Homo sapiens: one gene and its partner. The protein of the gene in region 1 purifies or fractionates together with the protein of each later gene. This does not show direct contact. Each region holds a gene or a part of one and is shown in the gene's direction. Other genes may lie near its edges. The genes, in order: RNASE4 and CD109.

What was found.
Region 2: the proteins of RNASE4 (region 1) and CD109 purify together in Homo sapiens (co-immunoprecipitation; 2 studies listed by BioGRID and IntAct, with this or other methods). This does not show direct contact.

What each region holds. Positions count from the first base shown.
Region 1 is NC_000014.9:20,680,019-20,692,716, forward strand, and holds the start of RNASE4 (ribonuclease 4 precursor), read left to right. Parts: upstream 1-4,541; 5' UTR 4,542-4,740; intron 4,741-8,745; exon of another isoform or gene 8,746-8,856; intron 8,857-12,698.
Region 2 is NC_000006.12:73,698,538-73,706,202, forward strand, and holds part of CD109 (CD109 antigen isoform 1 preproprotein), read left to right. Parts: intron 1-7,665. UniProt on the Homo sapiens protein: Modulates negatively TGFB1 signaling in keratinocytes.

The sequences.
Region 1 (12,698 bases):
ACCCATACCCAAAAACTTGACACTGATACCATATTTGGAAAAACATGGGTTTTCCTTATGGTATCCTGTACTCCTGTTTTATGTTTCTAAATGGAAAGCTTCCTGGGCGATGCATCTGATTGGTGGAGCCCAGGTCACATGCCCATTCTCAGCTGTAAGCTGGGAAAGCAAGTGTTCTAGGACAGACTTACTTATAATATGTGAAATATCCACATGTAAGGAGAATTTTTAAAAGATGTTGGACACACACTAACATAACATATGCCTATAACAGGGCTATTCAAAACTTATGTTCTAGTCTCAGCTGTTTTCTCTGTATTCTTTTCCTTCAAGAGTGCATAACTCGTAGAGTCTCTAACTCAATGGATGACTTATGTAATTTGATTAATTCATTTATCAATTCATGAAACTCTAGACACGAGACTATTCTGGCTATCATGCAATTCCCATGAACTGCTCCACCTTCACTTCATATTCAGCTTACCTAAATCCTAGCGTCACCCCTCCGCCCTCTCCAGATACGCTGAAGAAGTAGGCTTCCTTTTTTCTGCAGGTGTTATCTTGCCTCTTCAAGACACCTTTGAGAGTCCCCTCTCTTTCCTCTTGATTTCACTTCATACCTAGGTTCAGCAGAATCGCCCTGCCCTGTAACGCTCTCACTCATCCCTTCCTTTCCAGTCCCATAACGATTACCTTTTTGCAGCTTTATGTTTGAGCATCTTCACCATGGCCAGTCACTGGTGTTTCTGACTCTGGTTGCTCGTCCCTTCAATTAATTCCGCAAACTCATCAATGTTTGGTGAATTTCTATTTTCTTCTACTAATCTTCTCACCTGCTGCCCCAGCCAGTGTTCCCTTGAATGTCTCAGTCTTTCTCTCGGACTTTGCTCGTAATTTTATTCTACCAGGGACCACCCTGCTCCCATTTTTGTCTAAGTCTTAACCTCCCTTCATAGTGCAGCTCAGGCCAATGCCCTCTTGAAGACACCCCCGGATGGTTCACTTTGTAAATGTGTGGACCTTGGCATGGCCAACGCCCCTTCACACCTGGCACAGCTACTTTTCATTGTTTTCCTTCATGAAAACTAAAGTTCTTTTGTTCCACAAAACTGTGACAGTGACTTCAGGATAAAGATCATATCTGGATCCCTAATTCTTAGTGCAGAGCCTAGTACAGAACTGGAATGCAGTGTTTGTTGAATGAAGGAATGAATTAAACTGCAAATTAACGAATGCCTGCTCTGGCACTGAGACTCGCAGCTGTGAGAAAGGTCTCTGGAGGCAGACAGTTGCTGGTACGAAGTCCTGAGTCAAGCAGGAAACAAAATGCGGATGTCAGCAGTTTCAAGTGAGACCTGTGGTGAGCTCCTTCCTCTGCCGGTTTTCCCTTCTTAATTTTCAGTCTGAAGTGAGGGAGTGGAGAATCTTTCTGTGTTAGACTGTGTCGCGTTGGGCAGATTTCTCCAATCTTAGGATAGTAGTGGTCCCTCTCACTGGCCTTCACTTTGTACCATCCCCAGCAAGAACACTGAGTCTGTGAACCGAATTCTAGTAGTCGGGAAATGGATTGAAAGGACATCCAGGTTTTACTTAGTTTCTATGCTCAGATGCTGGCAGAAGCCCTGCAAATCTTTTCCTTTTCTGTGAAAGGAAGAGGCGGTTTCTGCGTGAGGCCCTATAGCTCAGGGGTTAGAGCACTGGTCTTGTAAACCAGGGGTCGCGAGTTCAAATCTCGCTGGGGCCTTGCGAAACTACTTTCTTGATTCAGGTGTTTTTTGAAAAACTCCCCTTCTAGTCTTTCTGAACTAAGTCACAGAAAATGTGGCAAATTAGAGCTTCTTTCCTCTGTTCAGAGCTTCCAAACACTAGCTCAGCAGAACGTTTCCTTTAGGTTCCAGTAGTAATGCTGCTTTAGCTCCTGGAATGCGGCGGAATCCATTACACAGGCGGTGGAAATCACCGTCAGCCTCTGCCCACGCCCTGGCTTGCGGACTGGCGGCGAGAGCCCTGCTGACTGCCGGGCGGGAAATGGGGACAGCTAGGCGAGACAATAGCCCTTTAAGCTATTCTCAAGCCCCGGGTCTGGGCATATTTGGAGTAGAGATCAAGGTTCCACTTCTGAAACGGGAAGAGCCAGCAATGGCCGCTCCGGCCAGGCGTCCAGAAGAGAGATGCACGTTGTGAGGCAAGGTTTCATGTGCCAGTGGGGTTTTGGGAAATTAAGGGCCCGACTTTAGGGGCGAGACTTGGGTCACTAAATTTGATTTTAACGCAGAGAAATGTGGCCTTCCTTTTGAATGAGCTGCAAATATTATCTCCAAAAGCGAATTCACACAGAAACATTGGGTTTGCCCAGATGTCCTCTATTTCAGGGGTTCCCAACCCTTGGGCCGCGCACCTGTCCATGGCCTGTTAGGGACCCGGCTGTACAGCAGGAGGTGAACTCCGGGCTAGCTACCAGTACCGCCTGAGCTCCGCCTCCTGTGAGATCAGTGGTGGCATTAGAATCTCACAGGAGCGCGAACCCTATTGGGAACTGCGCATGCCAGGGATCTAAACTGCACTCCTTATGAGAATCTAAGTGATGCCTGATGATCTGAGGTGGAACAGTTTCATCCCGAAACCATCCCCCAACTCTTCCCCCCGCCCCCGCGGTCCGTGGAAAAACTGTCTTCCACGAAACCGGTCCCTAGTGCCAAAAATGTTGGGGACCACTGCTCCATTCCACACCCTCTCCCTCCCGTGTCTGTGGACGTGTAAGCGGAAGAGCCGAGATTGGGAGGGAAGCGCAGGAAGTGAGGACATCAGGGAGCCCGGGCCTAAGCCTGGAGGCCCGCCCTCTCCGGCGTTCACAGTTGCGCAGTCAGAATTGTGTGCGTCCCACCGCCTCAGCCCCCAGTTCTCCGACGCCCAGGTGCCGGTCCCCACCCTACACACAAACACACGCATCCACGCTCGCGAGGCCCCTGGGTCCGCGCCCAGTGAGGCCAACAGCCCTCGGGCGCCCAGAGGATGAGCAGCCTCGGTATGCCCGAGTTTCAGGGGCGCCTGCTCTGCTTGGGAGCCCCTCAGTGAGGCAGGGGAATCCAGATTTAGAAAGGTTGTCCTCAGAACCTCGGACGCAGGACTGTCTTACAAGCTGGCTTTGTGACTCTGCAGTAATTACTTTCCGGGTATAAAGAGATTTCTTTCTTTCCCGTCTCTGGTTAAGGATGTCTCGAGTAGGGATTTTTAGGAGAGTTGTTTCCGTGCTTCCTTCGATAGCTCAGCTGGTAGAGCGGAGGACTGTAGTACTTAATGTGTGGTCATCCTTAGGTCGCTGGTTCGATTCCGGCTCGAAGGAGACGCTGCTGTTTTGGGGTTTACGGTTGCTCTTCGTTTGTGCAAAAAATCTCTGTATCTTGACGTGATCAAATCTGTTTCTGTCTCTCACCCTTGTCCGAAGGAAACAGCTTAGCCGCGAGGTGGGCTGCGTTAATCGCGTCTTGAAAAGTTGGTTACCTTTCTGAAAGATAGTAGACCCGAATCGTCCCACCGTTGGGGGAAGGCACTGTTGTCTTACCGAAGTGTGTTATATTTTGGCTTCTACGTTAAGTCCAAAGGCCGGCAGATATATACGTATCGCGCGTCTGTCCTGGGGCTCAGTACCCTACAGCCTTGCAACCGAGCTCAGCTCTGGCCCTCGATCTCTATTTCAGCCCCCTCCAGGTTCCCTCCAGGCCCTAGCGGGCTTAAATCGCTCCCCGGGCTCAGTGAGACACAAGCATGTGACCTAAAGTCTAAAAAGCTGCCTTCCTTCACCCCATCCTGCATCTGGATCGAGGAGAATAAGCCAGAGAATAAGCCACACTTGAAACTTGGTGAAGATGGAAGGAATAACTAAATAAGGCCTAAGGGAAATGTCACAACAGAGGAAAAGAAACAAAACAAAAAACCTTCAGAACAGCAGGCGGAAAAGAGAAATTCAGAGTGATAGGAAGCACCACTCAGCTACAGTGGCTCGTTGGTCTAGGGGTATGATTCTCGCTTTGGGTGCGAGAGGTCCCGGGTTCAAATCCCGGACGAGCCCTCGTGGCTACTGTTTTTCCACCCCCTTTTGTCAACTACTGAAAAAAAGTCTCCGTTAAATTTGAAACACAAACTGTCTCGCGATGGGCTGTCCTGCCAAAGAAAGCAGCAGCGAATAAGTACGTGGCAGATGGTGCTGTCGACCAGTGTCAAGACCAAGTTTCATGGGTTCCTGGACGCTCAGCCAGGGGTAGTCTCTGAAGGGCCGCCTGGCAATTGGGAGCAGAAGCCAGTTTCCCGCCATCTGCTCTCCGTGGAGGCAGTGCTCTCGCGGCTGCTGCCCGTTGGGGTCCAGCTGAGGAAGGAGCGCGGATCCCAGGCTCGTTCTTTGCCTGGGCTGCCCCTGCGGCCCCTGGGGCGGGTGCTGCTGCGGCGCCAGCTCCAAGGGCGGATCCAGGCGGGAGGGGCCTCCTCGGAGAAGCGGGGCGCGGTCCCAACTACGCAGAGGCTGGCACGCCGACCCTCCACACCTCACCACGCCCCCATCTCCGTCCGTGTACACACACTCACACAAGGACGCCAACCCCACCTAGATGCAAAGCAGGATTCAAAAGAACATCTTTGCGTTTTCTACCGGCTCCCCATCATCGTACTAGGGAGGAAGAAGCGGGTGAGAAACAAAACTTCTTTCCATTGTCCTGCCCGTTTCTGCGGACTTGTTCTGAGGCCGAGGTAGGTTCACACTCCTGCTCCTCCTCCTCCTCTCTGGTAGCTTCATAAGGGGCGTTTAGGCCGGGGAGTCCTTTCCTAGTAGAGGCAGCTTGGGACTCCTTGGGGAGGAGTTTGCGGGACGGGGCTGGAGAGGGAGGAATGGGGAGGGACGTGAAAGTCCCGTATTTGTATGAGTTAACGACTTTACATTCCCACTCAGGTTTACTTTGCGCAGCTGGGCACAGATGCCAGCTTCTATTGATTAGTAGGCTTGGAGGGGGACCACAGAATCGCCGAACCTAAGGGAAGCCCTAGGAGGCCTGCACTTGCCCACAACTAAGAAAGCTTTGCTAGTTATTCAGGCTAATCACCAGCTTTTTGAAGCAGGCCTTAGTTTTTTGCAAGCGTAACTAACATTTGGGGATCGGTGTTTTCTGTTTACTCTCCTCTGCCTCCTCACCCTTAACCCACCCTCAGCCAGTGTTGTGCAATTCTTAGAGACACTTGCCAACAGCCTCTTCTCTAAGCCTTCCTACTGGAAGGTTGGGATCCTCCGTTTTCTCGCTCTGAGACAGCACGTCAAATGCTAATAGCAGCACATGAGTAAAGCGCAACATCTTTATTAAAACAATTTCAGCACCACTCAGGGGGCTAGGGAAATCTCAGATGAGCCAAGACCCTCCCTCGTGACAGTAAAAATCTTATAATCAAGTCATAATGTAATCAGTAGAAACCCAAGGGACATCATTATCTGTGGCACAGGACCACCTTCCCAGAAGCAGCCTCAGGTATTCAAGACTTACTTAACCACAGAGCCACTAACAAGTTTTGCAAGAGGATAGGTTTATTACATACGCTTCAATTCAAGCAATTCTTTTACTGATGACAAGCAGAGTAAAATAATTTTTGAATTTATGGTAATAGTCAATGTAGGTTTCCTTCGAACAGCAACTTTCAGTGGCCCCTTTAAAGTTAGCTCTGATTGTCTAGAAAGTACTAGTATGGAATATAAAAGTTGTGTGGGCCCGGCACGGTGGCTCATGCCTGTAATCCCAGCACTTTGGGAGGCCGAGGTGGGTGCATCACAAGATCAGGAGTTCGAGACCAGCCTGGCCAAGATGGTGAAACCTCGTCTCTACTAAAAATACAAAAATTAGCCGGGCACGGTGGTGAGCACCTGTAACCCCAGCTACTCGGGAGGCTGAGACAGGAGACTCTCTTGAACCTGGGAGGCGGAGGTTACAGTGAACAGAGATTGCGTCACTGCACTCTAGCCTGGGTGACAGAGCAAGACTCCGTCTTAAAAAAAAAAAAAAAAAAAATTGTGTGGTGCATTGGAAAGCTTCCAGGCCGGCGAATGCAATGAGTTCCTTGGGCAATACATGTCTCTTTCTCTGTTCCTCAGTTGGCTCTTCTTTAATATGAGGGGTGGACAGAGTCTCAGAGGCCCCTCCCACTCTTGTTCTATGACTCCATGGAGTGGTACGATGTTAGTAACAGGACATGAGGCACTCTAGTAATGTGGAGATGAACTATCGTTTGGCAGAGAGGATGGAAAAAATCATTCCAGGAAAAGAGGAATGGCTTTAGCTATTGTTGAAAACAGATAATCAGGTTATAAGCAGGCAAGAGTAAGAGGTTTGTCAAGTTATTGTTGGAAGCATTGGTCACTGTGACTCAAATTAAAGTAGCTGGATAAAAAAGTGGACCAATGAAGGTCAGTGAAACCTTTCTTTAGGAGTTTTTATTGAATCTGTATTTAAGCAGATTCTCTGTAATTCTCTGTAAACAGTTATTCCCGGAAGAATGCCATGAAATACTTGGGAAAGAGGGAATGGGAACAAAGAGTGAGTGGGCACAAAGCCCAGAGTTGGTTGAAAAGCAAATGTTTAATTTTTGTCTTTGTTTGGAAATACAGGCATGTCAGCAGGACTTTGTCCCCACTGTCCTTCAATCAGTAGTGTTGCCTCTTCCTGGAGACGTGGTTCTTCTTGCCACGTGTGCTTTTCCTTCTTTACCTGTTACTTCCGTTATTGAATAAGTTCATGCTTATAGACCTAAAGTGTTAGAATAATAAAGAAATATAGAAATTATTTAGTCCATTCTTCCCATCATCTAATTTTATAATTAGTCCTAAGACAGAATGATACATATATACTCTGTATGAAGGAGGAAAGTGCTCTAACACTAGGGTCCTTGGAAACAGGACCCGTGCATCCCGTGTCTGTGTGCAGGGACATTATTGGCTTGAGGGAGAGAGAGAAAAAAATCTCCAGGAAAGGGGAATGACTTTCAAGTTAAAGCTGTCTGAACATTTAAAAAATATATGAGGTTTTTTGCAATTGGCGATTCCTTCATTTGTATTAAAATTACTGACAAAGATGTGATGTTCCTTAATCATAGAATATAATTCCTTGTTGTATTTTAAACACAAATGACTAAGTGCTTAGATGCATTCTAATGAAATAGTAATTTTTCCCCCAAACCCTACTTTTCATTTCAACAAAACTTCCTTGTGCCAAGTTTAAAAGAAAAACATAAAACTGTCTTTTTGCATTGTGGGCAGATTGTGTATCCTCCAAAGGTTGTCCAGTGAAGGCCCAGAGGCAGAGAAGGGACCTAACTATATTCAGAGGCTGCTGGTTGCCCCACCTCAGCACTACTGCAGAACTCTAAAATCAGAGGCTGCTCTGTTTGTGTGAGTCGGTGCTTGAATTGGTGCTTCAGGCCATGGGGCTGTGTGTGTGCAGGCGCATATGGGTTGTATGCTGTGGCAGGGTACCGCTTTTCGGGACTCAGAGGTGGTGTTGCTTGAGCTAAGCCTGGAAAGACAGGTCAGTTTTCTCCTTGCTTATGAAGGGTTCAAAGTCTGACTCCACCATTCATCTGCTGTTTGTTCTTGGAGTTTCCTCATGAGCAGAGCATATTTACATAATGCCTACCTCACACAGTCCTGGTGTTGGTTGAATGTAGTCATGTATGTGAGAGCTTCACAAAATGAAAGATTGCACTGAATATTATAATTATTGTGATTTCAAGTGCATTTGTTTTACTAGCAGGCAGCCTGTCTTTTCTTGACACCTTCTCAAGTGCAGCCAGACTGAATACTTGGCAGCTAGGTGGGTGACAACAGAGGATTGAGGATTTTTAAAAAGATAACACTGTCCTAGATCCAACACCACTGTGGGCAAATGCTGGGGGTCTGTGAAACAGTTGGTACCCTGCTGCTGTCTGATATTGGAAACTATGAGATCTATAAGGTGATCCTGGTGACCTTTGGCCCACTGTTTTTACGCAAGCAATGGATCTACAGCCCTGCTTTGATGATGGAGATAAGCAATTTTGCAACTACATTACAAGGATCAGAAGATTGAATGTTCAGGGTTAGTCTCTTGTGGACAGGTAAAGATGGAAGAAGGAGAAACCCAGGAAACATGGCAAGCCTGCTTCTGGGGGTTAGAAGCTGAGAAGTTGAGTGTAGGGGGAGGGGCAGTGTACTAATAGCTGTCACACAACCTTCTCTGGAAGTGCTTTCCTGGCTGTATGAAATCGATGGAATAACGTGCTTAGCATCCGTTCATGAAACCAAATGATGTGATACGATAAATAGGATGTGATATGATAAATGATAAATAGTACAGTGGAAAAGCATCCTACTGGAAGACCATATCTTACTCTGTGACATCTTCCAAGGCAGTTCTTGGAGTTGGCCCAGGGAGATCAGAGATGCTATCTTATGGATCCAGACTATTATGTGTGAATAGGGAAACCTCAGTCCTGCCATGAACAAGAGTAAGCACCACAGACAGCAGAAAAGGGCAACTTTTGGACAGAAGGCCATGTTTCTCAAACTTTGTCTTCCAGAACAAATCTCTAATCCATTCAGGTGGGTTAATATCTAACCCAATCATGCCCAGCGAAAAGGTGAATGACCCTCCTCGTTTGTTCAAGAGCAGTGTCCTTGGTTTTCATGTCCCTGCCAGGACTGGGACACTATATATTAGGAACACTATATAATCAGAACCTGGAGAGGCCTCCAGGTTCACACAACTGGAACCCATCTCCAGGAACAAACAGCTGGAACCCATCTCCCGTTGAAGGGAAACTGCCAGATTTTTGTAAGATTCTTCCTCCTGGGTAAACTATTGTTCAATTTGTTTTATATATTATTTCTAGCCATCCATCCATTTTAATGAAACCATTTTCCTCCCTTTAAAGCCTCCAGGCTCAAGCTCATGAATTAAAAAGAAAATGGATCAGATTCTAAAGTTTAAAATGAAAACAGGTTTCTTTTGGGATGGCCTATGTGTGGATAAAGAGAAATTAGTGAGACTGGGAGGAAGTGGAAGTTTAGGAGGGATTTCTAAATTGTGATAAAATCCCCAAAGGCCTGGGGGAGCCATTTGCTGAAGGCCATCGGGAGTCCTCCCCCGTCGTCCACCCCTGTTACAGGCATTACACGTGGCTTAACAAGGAAAGAAACAGTATGTTTTTAGCATTGTTTCCTTCTAACCTTCCCTGCTAATTTCTCTTCTTAGAAAAGTTTTGGATGCTCTTTCAAACAAAGTGGAACACATCCCAAGATCAAAAGAAGGCTCACTGGCAGGTTGAAGGGAAGAAGGAAGGAAAAGCAATAAAGGGATGAATATGCCTTGGGTGTTAGGCTCTTACTTTGGGGGATTTTGCCCTAGGATGTATAAAAGTGTGAAGCCACATTGATGAAAATGATAACTATAGTTACTCATCATAAACTGTCAAGTTAACTCCCTGGTGTGTAAAATTTGATGAATCTTTTGAATACTGAACATTGCCTGTGGGGAGAGGGAGAGAATAATTCTTGTGAATACTAACAGATTCATTTGATACAGAAGATAAAGTTACTCTAAAGAACAGTTGGGGCCAGGTGTGGTGGCTCACACCTGTAATCCCCGCACTTTGGGAAGCCGAGGTAGCCGGATCAACTGAGGTCAGGAGTTCGAGACCAGCCTGGCCGACATGGCGAAACCCCGTCTCTACCAAATACACAAAATTAGCCAAGCGTGGTGGTGGCCGCCTGTAATCCCAGCTACTTGGGAGGCTGAGGCAGGAGAATTGCCTGAACCTGGGAGGTGGAGGTTGCAGTGAGCCAAGATAGCACCACTGCGATCTAGCCTGGGCGATAGAACAAGACTCTGTCTCAAAAAAAAAAAAAAAACAGGCCGGGCGCGGTGGCTCACGCCTGTAATCCCAGCACTTTGGGAGGCCGAGGCGGGTGGATCATGAGGTCAGGAGATCGAGACCATCCTGGCTAACAAGGTGAAACCCCGTCTCTACTAAAAATACAAAAAATTAGCCGGGCGCGGTGGCGGGCGCCTGTAGTCCCAGCTACTCGGGAGGCTGAGGCAGGAGAATGGCGTGAACCCGGGAGGCGGAGCTTGCAGTGAGCCGAGATTGCGCCACTGCAGTCCGCAGTCCGGCCTGGGCGACAGAGCGAGACTCCGTCTCAAAAAAAAAAAAAAAAAAAAAAAAAAAGAAAAGAAAAGAAAAAAAGGACAGAGAACAGCTGGGACTAATTCCACTGACAAAAAGCTGACAGACAGTTACGTGTTTGGGTACAGAAGGATATATCTATAGGACTTTTGCCACCAGATGTGAGGCTTTGCACCCTTGGCTTAGGCAGATTCACTTTTACACCACAAACGATCTGTCTCTTACTGGTTTTCTCCCAATTCCATTTTACCTTGCTTTTTGAGGAATTTAGAGTTGAATATATTGAGAAAGTTTTGAGTGAGGGAGCAGATGTTAGATATTGGTGGTTTTGGTGTACGCTTGCTGAGATTTGGTTCCTGGATGTCTTAGGGAATCAAGATTACAGGCCCCCAACTAAACTTATACAAAATTTGTCTCTGTAACTGAGGGTCACTGGACCTTTGCTATTGAAACTAGCAAAGCCTCTATTATGTTTAATGAGAACCATGAAACTTCAGATTTTTAGAGCTAGCAACTCTTTTATTTTCTTGATGAACAAACCTAGGCCTGGAGAGAAAAATGAAGTCAATTACTTAAAAAATATTAAGGGTTATAATAAGGCAAGCATGTTGATTCAAGGTGAATAATATGAGTTCTGTGGAATATACACCAGTAAGAAACACTAACAAGTAAATACTTCATTGTTCATCCACGATCACGTGGGTAATGGCATGTTTGGAAATGGCACCCGTGAAACCTGACAACAGGTCGGTCTTTATTTTGTGATATCCTTATGGGTAGATTCTGAACTTTGTGGCTTTTACTTTGGCACTTATATCTAATGAGGTGTCCTTGGTCTTAATATCTAATGCAGAGCGAGTTTGGACAGAGATTCTAAACAGGTTCACCAGCTCATACTCCCTTCTGTGAACAGCAATATCCCCACAAGTTATACAGCATTGGCACCTCCTGCAAGTACGGTATTTCCTAGAGAAGACATTAGTAACATTCCTATCCACCACTGCCACCTAACGACTCTTTTAGGTACTAGCAGCTCTGGTTCCGTTTCCTGATTTCTGATTTCTGGGATTCTGGCACCAGGCAGAAGAATGTTGACTGTGTAAGGCAGACCTTTGACATTAGAAGTCAGTATTTGTTCATTACAGAGCAAGAGACTTAATTGATTACAAATCAATAAAACTTTAATAAGATCTTCCAAAAAACTAGAAACAGGAAACACACCCAGGAGACTGAAAAGCATGATGTAAATGTGAAGAACGTGGCAAGTGGGTGGCTTGGCAGCCCAGCAGCTATACTGGAGCAGCTGCATGAGTGAATACTTGTTACTCCTTTAGGGCTGGCTCTCCATTCTACAATCATGTACCTCTTTCTTGATAAACTCCCAAGAACACACTTTCAGCATGGAATTTCAGACTTTTAGAGATAGCAACTCTCTCAAGTATGGACAAATGTCGGTGCGGACAAATTTGATGCACTGCTGAAGAATACCAAATAATATGCTAAGGAATTTTTTCATTCCACAATAATGGAGTAAATAGCAGCTGGAAATGTTTGCATTAAGTTCATAGATTATAATTTGTAATGGAATCAACACCAAATGCAAATTAGAAAGAGAGCCCACTTTGCTCACCCAGTCACGTCTTCCCATGTAACCATAGAACATTGGGGTCCTGTGTCTTTCTAGATCCACAGTCTTGCTCTCAGAACAGGCTAGCCACACCACAGGCCTAGTGCCAGGACCCATGGCCTTTTTTTAAGCTCAGACTCCCTTCTGTGAACAGCAATATCCCCACAACTTGTACAACATTGGTGCTTCCTGCAAGGGCTACAGAACTATTTGATACGAAAATGTTCATTGACTTACACACAAGAGAAGCACAAAATAAAAAATTAATAATTAATTTAATGTCTTTGAAAATGTACCATTTATTTTTACATTTGGGGTCATAAGAATTGTATTACACTTAAGAATGCAATACAATTTGAAGATCAGATTTTTCTCCCTTTGTGAGAATTTCTCAGTATGTGTGATGACTACCAAGAAATCATAGCCAGTCATAAATTCAGTGAGTTACTCATAAACGAACAAGAACCACCTACTTCTTGGGGAGGTAGGTCTGCTTCCCTTCAACTCAGGATACAACTGCTTTCAACTGCTTTCTTCACATTAGCTGACTAATTAGCTAGAAGCCTGTCGTAAACAATTTTATGGTTGACTCCTTCCCTGGGCTCAGGGTTCCCTAGAACAGAGGTCCCCAAATCCCGGTCTGTGGCCTGTCCGCCTAAGCTCTGCCTCCTGCCAGATCAGCAGGCAGCATTAGATTCTCATAGGAGCTGGACGCCTATTGTGAACTGCGCATGTGCGGGATCCAGATTGTGCACTCTTTATGAGAATCTAACTAATGCTTGATGATCTATCTGAACCAGAACAATTTCATCCTGAAACCATCCCCCACCAATCCATAGAAATACTGTCTTCCACAAAAATGATCCCTGGTGCCAAAAATGTT
Region 2 (7,665 bases), on another chromosome or scaffold:
ACGTAATGAAGGGTGGTTGGTATTCATTACATAAGTGTTTATTCTCTACAAGCGTAGAGAAATGAACACCATCATGAAATGAAATAAAAGTAAAAGTTTATCTGCATCTGTGGTTCTTTCCCCACTGGAAGTTCACTGGGTAGGTATATTTGGAATAGGAGTCAGGAAGAGATGGTGTGTGTAGGGGCAAGTCACTTTTGTCCCTCATAGAAGCAATGTCAGGGAAGTGGGAGGTCTTATTTCCCTGGAGGGGAAGTATAGGTTAGCCCTTAAGATCTGAGTTTGAATCCTGGTACTACTTTGCTACTAGTTGTATGATCTTAGGTAGGTTACTTAACTGCTTTGAGCCACAGTTTCCTTGTCTATAAAATGGAAATAATGAAACTGATTTCCCAGGGCAGTTATAAAGTTAAAATCTGTATATAGTACCTCTTAGGCATGCAATAAACAACAATTGCTAATATTATTAGTGTAATAATACTGCAGAAGAGGATGCAGAAAGTCCATTTCCTTTTTACATGGGGGCAGACTTCAACTTTCGTTATTGGACTATCATTTCTGAAAATGAATGACCCCTGATCTTATGATAGTCGCTAAAGAAAATATTGAAATATTAAATCACAGGACATAATACTTAAGGTAGTTCCACATTCATTATTTATTCATTAAGAATTTATGAGTGGGAAGAGGGAGGGTATTAAAAAACCACCTATTGGGTACCACACTTATCACCTGGATGATGAAATAACATGTACACTAAAGCCCTATGACAGGCATTTTACCTATATAACAAACCTGCACGTGTATCCCTGAAACTAAAATAAAAGTTAAAAAAAAAAGAATTTATAATATTGGCTCCACTAGTGTGGCAGTTTTCCTGCAATGCAGAGATCCAGAATATATATGGATGTTTTTGATAAATATTTGAGCTTTGCTTGGACATTTACATACTCTAATTCTAGAATTTCACCTGTTAGGTCTTTTCTGTGATCTCTGTTATCAGTCTCTCTTTTTTTTTGCAACAAATAGTACCTACATTGGGGTGCATGTTGTTGTGGCTTGGTTTTCAGCTTTATTCTTAGATCTTCTTTTGGGAGAAGGGTTCCTTGTATGCCCATAGGAAAGTTCAAGTACTCAAGACTGGGGCGGGCAAAGCTGTCCTGGGAGCAGAATGGATCTGTGGGAAGGAAGGAGGGAAAACGCTGCTTCTTTCATGGGCTGTTTTTGACTCTATTGACATAGAGTTTCATTGAAAATGCCATTGCTAGGAGCACTCTCCTGTTTCAAAGGAGAATGTTACTGTATTATCAGAGGCTGGGAGTTATTGTTCTCAGAGCAGATGCTTCCTGTAATGTGAGGACTTGAGGATCAAGACACTTCTCCCTGCTTGTCTTCACATCCTTTGCTTTATCTGGCTTCTCCAGTTGTAACAATATGTAGATAAACCAGGACTTCTAAATCAGGGGTCTGGATCTTCAAGTATCTGGATGTGGATTCATGTTTTGTTTTTTCTCCATCACATAAACACCAAACACCAACAAATAAATACCTTTTATTTTTAAGGGACAGAGTCTCACTCTGTTGCCCAGGCCAGAGTGCAGTGGTGAAATCATAGCTCACTGCAACTTGGAATTCTTGGGCTCAAGTGATCCTGCTGTCTCAGCCTCCTGAATCAGCTGGGACTACAGGCAAGTGCCAGCATGCTAGGTTTAAAATTTTTTTTTTTTTTGTAGAGATGGGGTCTTGCTATGTTGCCCAGACTGGTCTTGAACTCCTGGGCTCAAGCGATCTTCCTGCCTCAGCCTCCCGAAGTGCTGGGATTATGGGTATGAGCCTGATTGTTTCATTTTCCTATGAGCCACCCCCAGCCCCCCAACAGAAGGTTGGTTTTAATAAAGATTTATCTTCTAGTAAAGTTGGGTAAGGCAGTAGACTGTGTCTTAGTAGCTTATTTCCAGCAGTTTTGGATTTCTTAGAAATCCTCAGGATAGGGAGGTGTTTTACCCAAACCACAATAGATTTCTGGCTCAATTTGTGTTGGAAATAGTAATAACTAAATTGTTCAAATGGAGAATGTATTTAATAAAGGTGAAAAAGTATGGCATTTCTTCAGGGAAGAGTTCATTTGTTTGTTTGACAGATATGGGGGAGATTTTATTTACATTTCCACTTTTATGGCCAGGAGTGTAGGTTATATTACTGTTATTCATTTAAAAATACATTAATTCTACATTTATTGGGGATTGATTGTAGTTTTTTTTTTTTTTTTTTTTTTTTTTTTTGAGACACAGTCTCACTCTGTCACCCAGGCTGGAGTGCAGTGGTGCGATCTCGGCTCACTGCAACCTCTGCCTCCCTGGTTCAAGCGATTCTCCTGCCTCAGCCTTCCGAGTAACTGGGACTACAGGCATGTGCCACCATGCCTGGCTAATTTTTTGTATTTTTAGTAGAGACGAGGTTTCACTGTGTTAGCCAGGTTGGTCTTGAACTCCTGACCTCGTGACCTGCCTGCCTCGGCCTCCCAAAGTGCTAGGATTATAGGCGTGAGCCACCGTGCCCAGCGATTATGGGCTTTTTTTTTTTTTTTGGTGAATAATAGACCTTTAGAAAAAGTATTTCTGCTACACTTTGCAGAGTTCTGGGAAGGTGTATCAATGCCTTTCTAGTAGTGAGATTCAAAAGATTGCTTGTCACTGTTACCACTGTCACTGCCTCTACCACTATCAGCATCATTGCCATCAGCTCCATAGTGATTAGAACTATGTTCCTAATCTTATCTTCCTTTGCATAAAGAGTTAGTTAAATAAACATAACTGGCAAAACGTAGTAAAAGTTCAGCAGGTAATAATTACCAGAGGAAAGAAGATGGCACAGCTATTGGCATTTAAAATCAAGTCAGATTACTGTTTTGGGTGGAGAGTGAGTCTGTCCCTTTGTCTCTTCCCATATTTTTTTTCTCTTTCCTTACTGTGAAAGGAGTTCCTTGCCAAATCAAGAAAAAAGAAATTAAGAACATTTTGAGAACTGTCCTCTCATCTGTTAAGGCATATAAAATAATTTAATTTTCGTGATGTCCTTGAAACCATAATTTCTGTTTTATTTTCCCTTCTCTTGCTACAATTTGACATTTTCATTTGTAAACTTTCAGTAGTTTTCCTGAACAAGAGTCACTTCAAGTAATAAAGAATATAACCTTTCTCCCTCATTAATGAATTCATCATCATTAGTTTCATGTAAACCTGATTTAAGAAAAAATGCTAGAGGCTGAGTGCAGTGGCTCACAACCGTAATCCCAGAGCTTGGGAGGCTGAGGTGGGAGGATTGCTTGAGCCCAGGAGTTTGAGACCAGCCTGGACAACACAGTGAAATTCTATCTCAAAAACAAAAACAAAAGAACCCTTAAAACCAAAAACTCCCAAAAACCTAAACTGAAAATGCCTACTGAAATTTTGGGAACTCTGCATGGGCGTCTCCAGGTGAGTGCCTGCTGGTTTGGGGGCACCATTTTTTAAATGCTGCCAATCCTACTTCCATCTTCCCATTGAGTTACTGGGGTGGAATGTGCTCTATAAATGTGTCTGTAACTCGCTTTTTCTTTTTGCCCTAAAATCCTGGAGAGTTAATGGAGTGTTAACCTTTTTTTAAAGATTTTTTAAAAAATCTATTTTTTCCTTTGTTGTCTTTCTCACATTGACTATGATATATTTTATTTTCCATCTTGGCTCAGTAAGGGTGGGAAATTTTTAAAAATTGAGATATTAGCTGAAAAACTTAAAAAATCATCCAATTTGGTTTGGATGGTTTTCTGGTGGAAACAAAGCTCCTGAACATGCATTTCATGCCTCGTAGATAAAAATCAGTCCCATGGTCTTTATGAAAGTAGATTAATTAGTGTAGTGTGTGGGCAGATCTCCCAGAGCAGGTTTTCACAGGCAGCTTTGCCAACATAACTCAGTCTGAACCTGCAGTTATGTTAGAATTATTTTTAAAGGGTGTAGGCTTTTCATTCACACATCGTCTTTGTTCTTGTGTGTGATGTATATTAACAGGTAGGTGGTACCTGAGAATAAAGGACCACAGCATAATCACGATGTGCCTGGGCTCTGGAGCCTGGCTACCTGGGCACAGGTGCTGGCCATTCCACTTAGTGGTTGTGTGGCTGTGGGCAGTCATGATCTCACTAGGCTTCAGTTTCATCATCTGAAAAATAGTGGTTTCTGCCTTATACAATTATATGGATATTGTGAGGATTAAATGAGGTAACATATTCAAGGCACTTAACACAAAGGAATTATTCAAGAAAATGGTAGCTATTGTTACTAGAAGAGAGTAGCAACAGTTTATGTCAAAGGCAATTATTAATCACCTATTGTGACAATCTTGAACCGGGAACTCTATAAAAGACACATCCCTAGGAGGGGATTGGAAGGGATTTAACATATTAAATATCCAGTTTCCTCATAGTGCCAAGGACTTTATGCACTATATTTAATTTTAACAACTTGATGAAGTAGATACTCTTGTCTTCATTTTGGAGGTGAGGAAATTGAGGCAAAGAGAGAAGAATTAGTTTTTCTGAGTTAACCCAGTTAGTAAATGGTGAAGCCTGAATTTGAAGTTAGTTGTATCTGAGGTCCAGAGACCATAAGGTTTTCTATTGCTGGGAAGAGAGTGAAGTATTTTTATTTCCTTGATTTTGGGATATTGATGCAATGTTGCAGTTGTCTTCCACTAAAATCATTTTCACATTTGCTTGCAGTAGATAGACCTGGATCTAATGAAATCTAATTTGAATCGAAAGAATTACAAAATGAAATGCCAGCTCTCCTCTTAATTTACTTTCAGCCTCATAGAGTTTTGGAGCTGGAGGGGACCTCAAAGATAAGCAAATTCAATAGCCTAATATATGGCTGGGAGACTGAGGTGAGGCATGGGATCTGGGGATTTTCCCAAGGTCAAATCACTTATTGGTGGCAGAGCTGGAAACAGATTGCAGTTTCCCAAATTTGCAGTCCAGTGCTATTTCCAGTATACTCTACGAAAGTTTCCTAACATATGGAGAGCTGAGCTTAAGACCTAAGATATATTTACAAATGCTGATTCTTCTGATATGGAAGAAAATAAGGCTAACTAAGGAGTTTAAAAATGCTTACTTGCATACTGTGAAAGTTTCTTATTTTAGCTCAAGGTGGAGTTGCTCTTTATGCACTATTTGTTCTGTATAAGGGGTGGGGGCTGGGTTAGAAGCTTCATAGACCTTTTAAAAACTAAATTCTGTTGCTTTGTTTCTCAGAGTCCAAATTGTATTTATTAAAAAGGCTGATTCATGGCCTCCCTCAAGACATGGGTAAGAATCAAGAATCTCAGCTGGGTGTGGTGGCTCACGCCTATAATCCCAGCACTTTGGGAAGCCAAGGTAGGTGGATCACTTGAGGCCAGAAGTTCGAGACCAGCCTGGCCAACATGGTGAAACCCCGTCTCTACCAAAAACACAAAAATTAGCCAGGTGTGGTGGTGGGCGCCTATAGTCCCAGTTACTTGGGAGGCTGAGGCAGGAGAATCGCTTGAACCCAGGAGGCAGAGGCTGCAGTGAGATTGTACCAGTGCACTCCAGCCTGGGTGACAGAGCAAGACTCCATCTCAAAAAAAAAAAAAAAAAGAGAATCTAACCTTTATGTTCCACCATGACCACAGGTGATTCTTAGTCACATTAGAATGAGAACAACTGCCCTTTGGTATCTCACAAATTGTACTCGACCAAATACTGGAAAGCTCGAGGGTGAGTAGCATGCCCCTGCAAGCCTGTGATGATTCATGGCGGCGGAGGGAAGGCTCCTCGTGGACTTTCATGTTTGCTTTTAAGCAACCCTCAACCCTAAGCGCTGGTGTTCATTTTCAGCCGCAGAGAAACATGACTTGGGGTTTGATTGTGAATCAACGATTGGGTGAAGTTAAAAGTGAACACACTGATTCTTTAAACTCCAAGTTAAACATGTGCTGCTCCTCTTCTAGCACTGGATGAGTCACTGTCCTAGTGACTCACTGAAGGATTGTGGTGGAAATAGAAAACAGATCCCATAAGAATTTGGGCTGGGTTACTGTTGATCCTTTATGTCCTGTGAAGAGGGCTTTATAATGCTGAAACTAGTTGTTTCCCCACAGACATTTCTTCTCATTAATGTATTATTTATTGATTATTTGCTGTATGTGAAACATGAATGAATGGGGAGTGGGGAATAAGAGAAAGGAAGGCACTGGAGGACATTCAGAGGTCCCAGAAGGATAATATAATATTAAAAGTGCAGAAGGCTAGAGGAGTTTTTATTTTTTGTATAAAAAATACAATGCGGTTTGTAAATAGTGCTTCTTGTATGTGAGCCTGTGCCTGGTACTATTATCTTTTACTTCCAGAGCTATACAGATGTCCATTCATAAATGTCCCACCTCTGCTGACATATTTGGCCTTTGGAGGGAACAGTTACTTCACGTACTAGAGACGGGAAGGGTGTGCCGGAGGAAAGAGCTGCTGGCTGGTGTGGCAGTTATGAAAAGGAGATAGGGGTTTGTGTATATATTTTCTAAAAAGATGTTTCATTCTGCTTTGGATATGAGTTTGGGGAGACATCCAGGTGGAGATGTCCAGCAGATAGTTTTGAAATTGCAGCTGGGGAGAGAGATTTAGGCATTATTTTCATAGAGGCAGACAATATTTTGAAGTCCTGGAAATACATAAGATGCACAAGAGAGACAGAGCTCATGGAAAGAACAAGTCTTTTGAGAGAAGCTTGGAAAGAGGAAAATAAGTTAATGAAGGGAAAAAGACCAGACACAGTGGCTCATGCCTGTAATCCCAGCAACTTGGGAGGCTGAGGTGAGCAGATCGCTTGAGCTCAAGAGTTTGAAATCAGCCTGGACAACATATTGGAACCTCATCTCTACTAAAAATAAAAAAAAGGTAGCTGGACGTGGTGACATGTGCTTGTAGTCCCAGCTACTCAGGAGGCTCAGGCAGGAGGATTTCTTGAGCTACAGTTATAGTGCCGTTGTACTCTAGCCTGGGTAACAAAGCATGGCCCTGTCTCAAGAAAAAGAAAAGAAAAGAAAAGAAAAGAAAAGAATAGAATAGACAACGAGCAATCAGAGAAGGGTAAATTGAAAATGTCTCAGAAGCCAAGGGAAGAAGAAGTTCCAAGAAGGAAGGTTTAATAGTTAATAATCAATTCTCTCAGGTCAGAGAAGAGGAGGACAGAGGAAAGAACATTGGTGACGCTTAAGTAAATGGCTTTAAGTTGAATGTTGGAAGCAAAAGCAAATTTGAGGGAATAAATGGATGGTGAAAAATATAATCAAAATTTATTCTTTCCAGAAGTTTGGTAGTTGAAAGGAGAGAGGTGGACGGTCTCTCAAAAGGCACATTAGAAAGGTGAAAGTGGTTAAGGCAAAGGAGAGGGTGGATAATTCCTGGGTTAGAAGTGGTGAGATCAGTATTGGGGCAGAGGCAAGTGGATTATCCTTAAAAAACCCTCATACTTTCTTCTTTGAAGAAAGAAAGAAATAGAAGAGAATCATTAAGGAAAGAAATATTTTGAGGTATGAAATTGAGATGAAGAATAAAATTGAAATACAGTTTTAGGAAAACTTATTTACCGACTTGTAAATTGCACA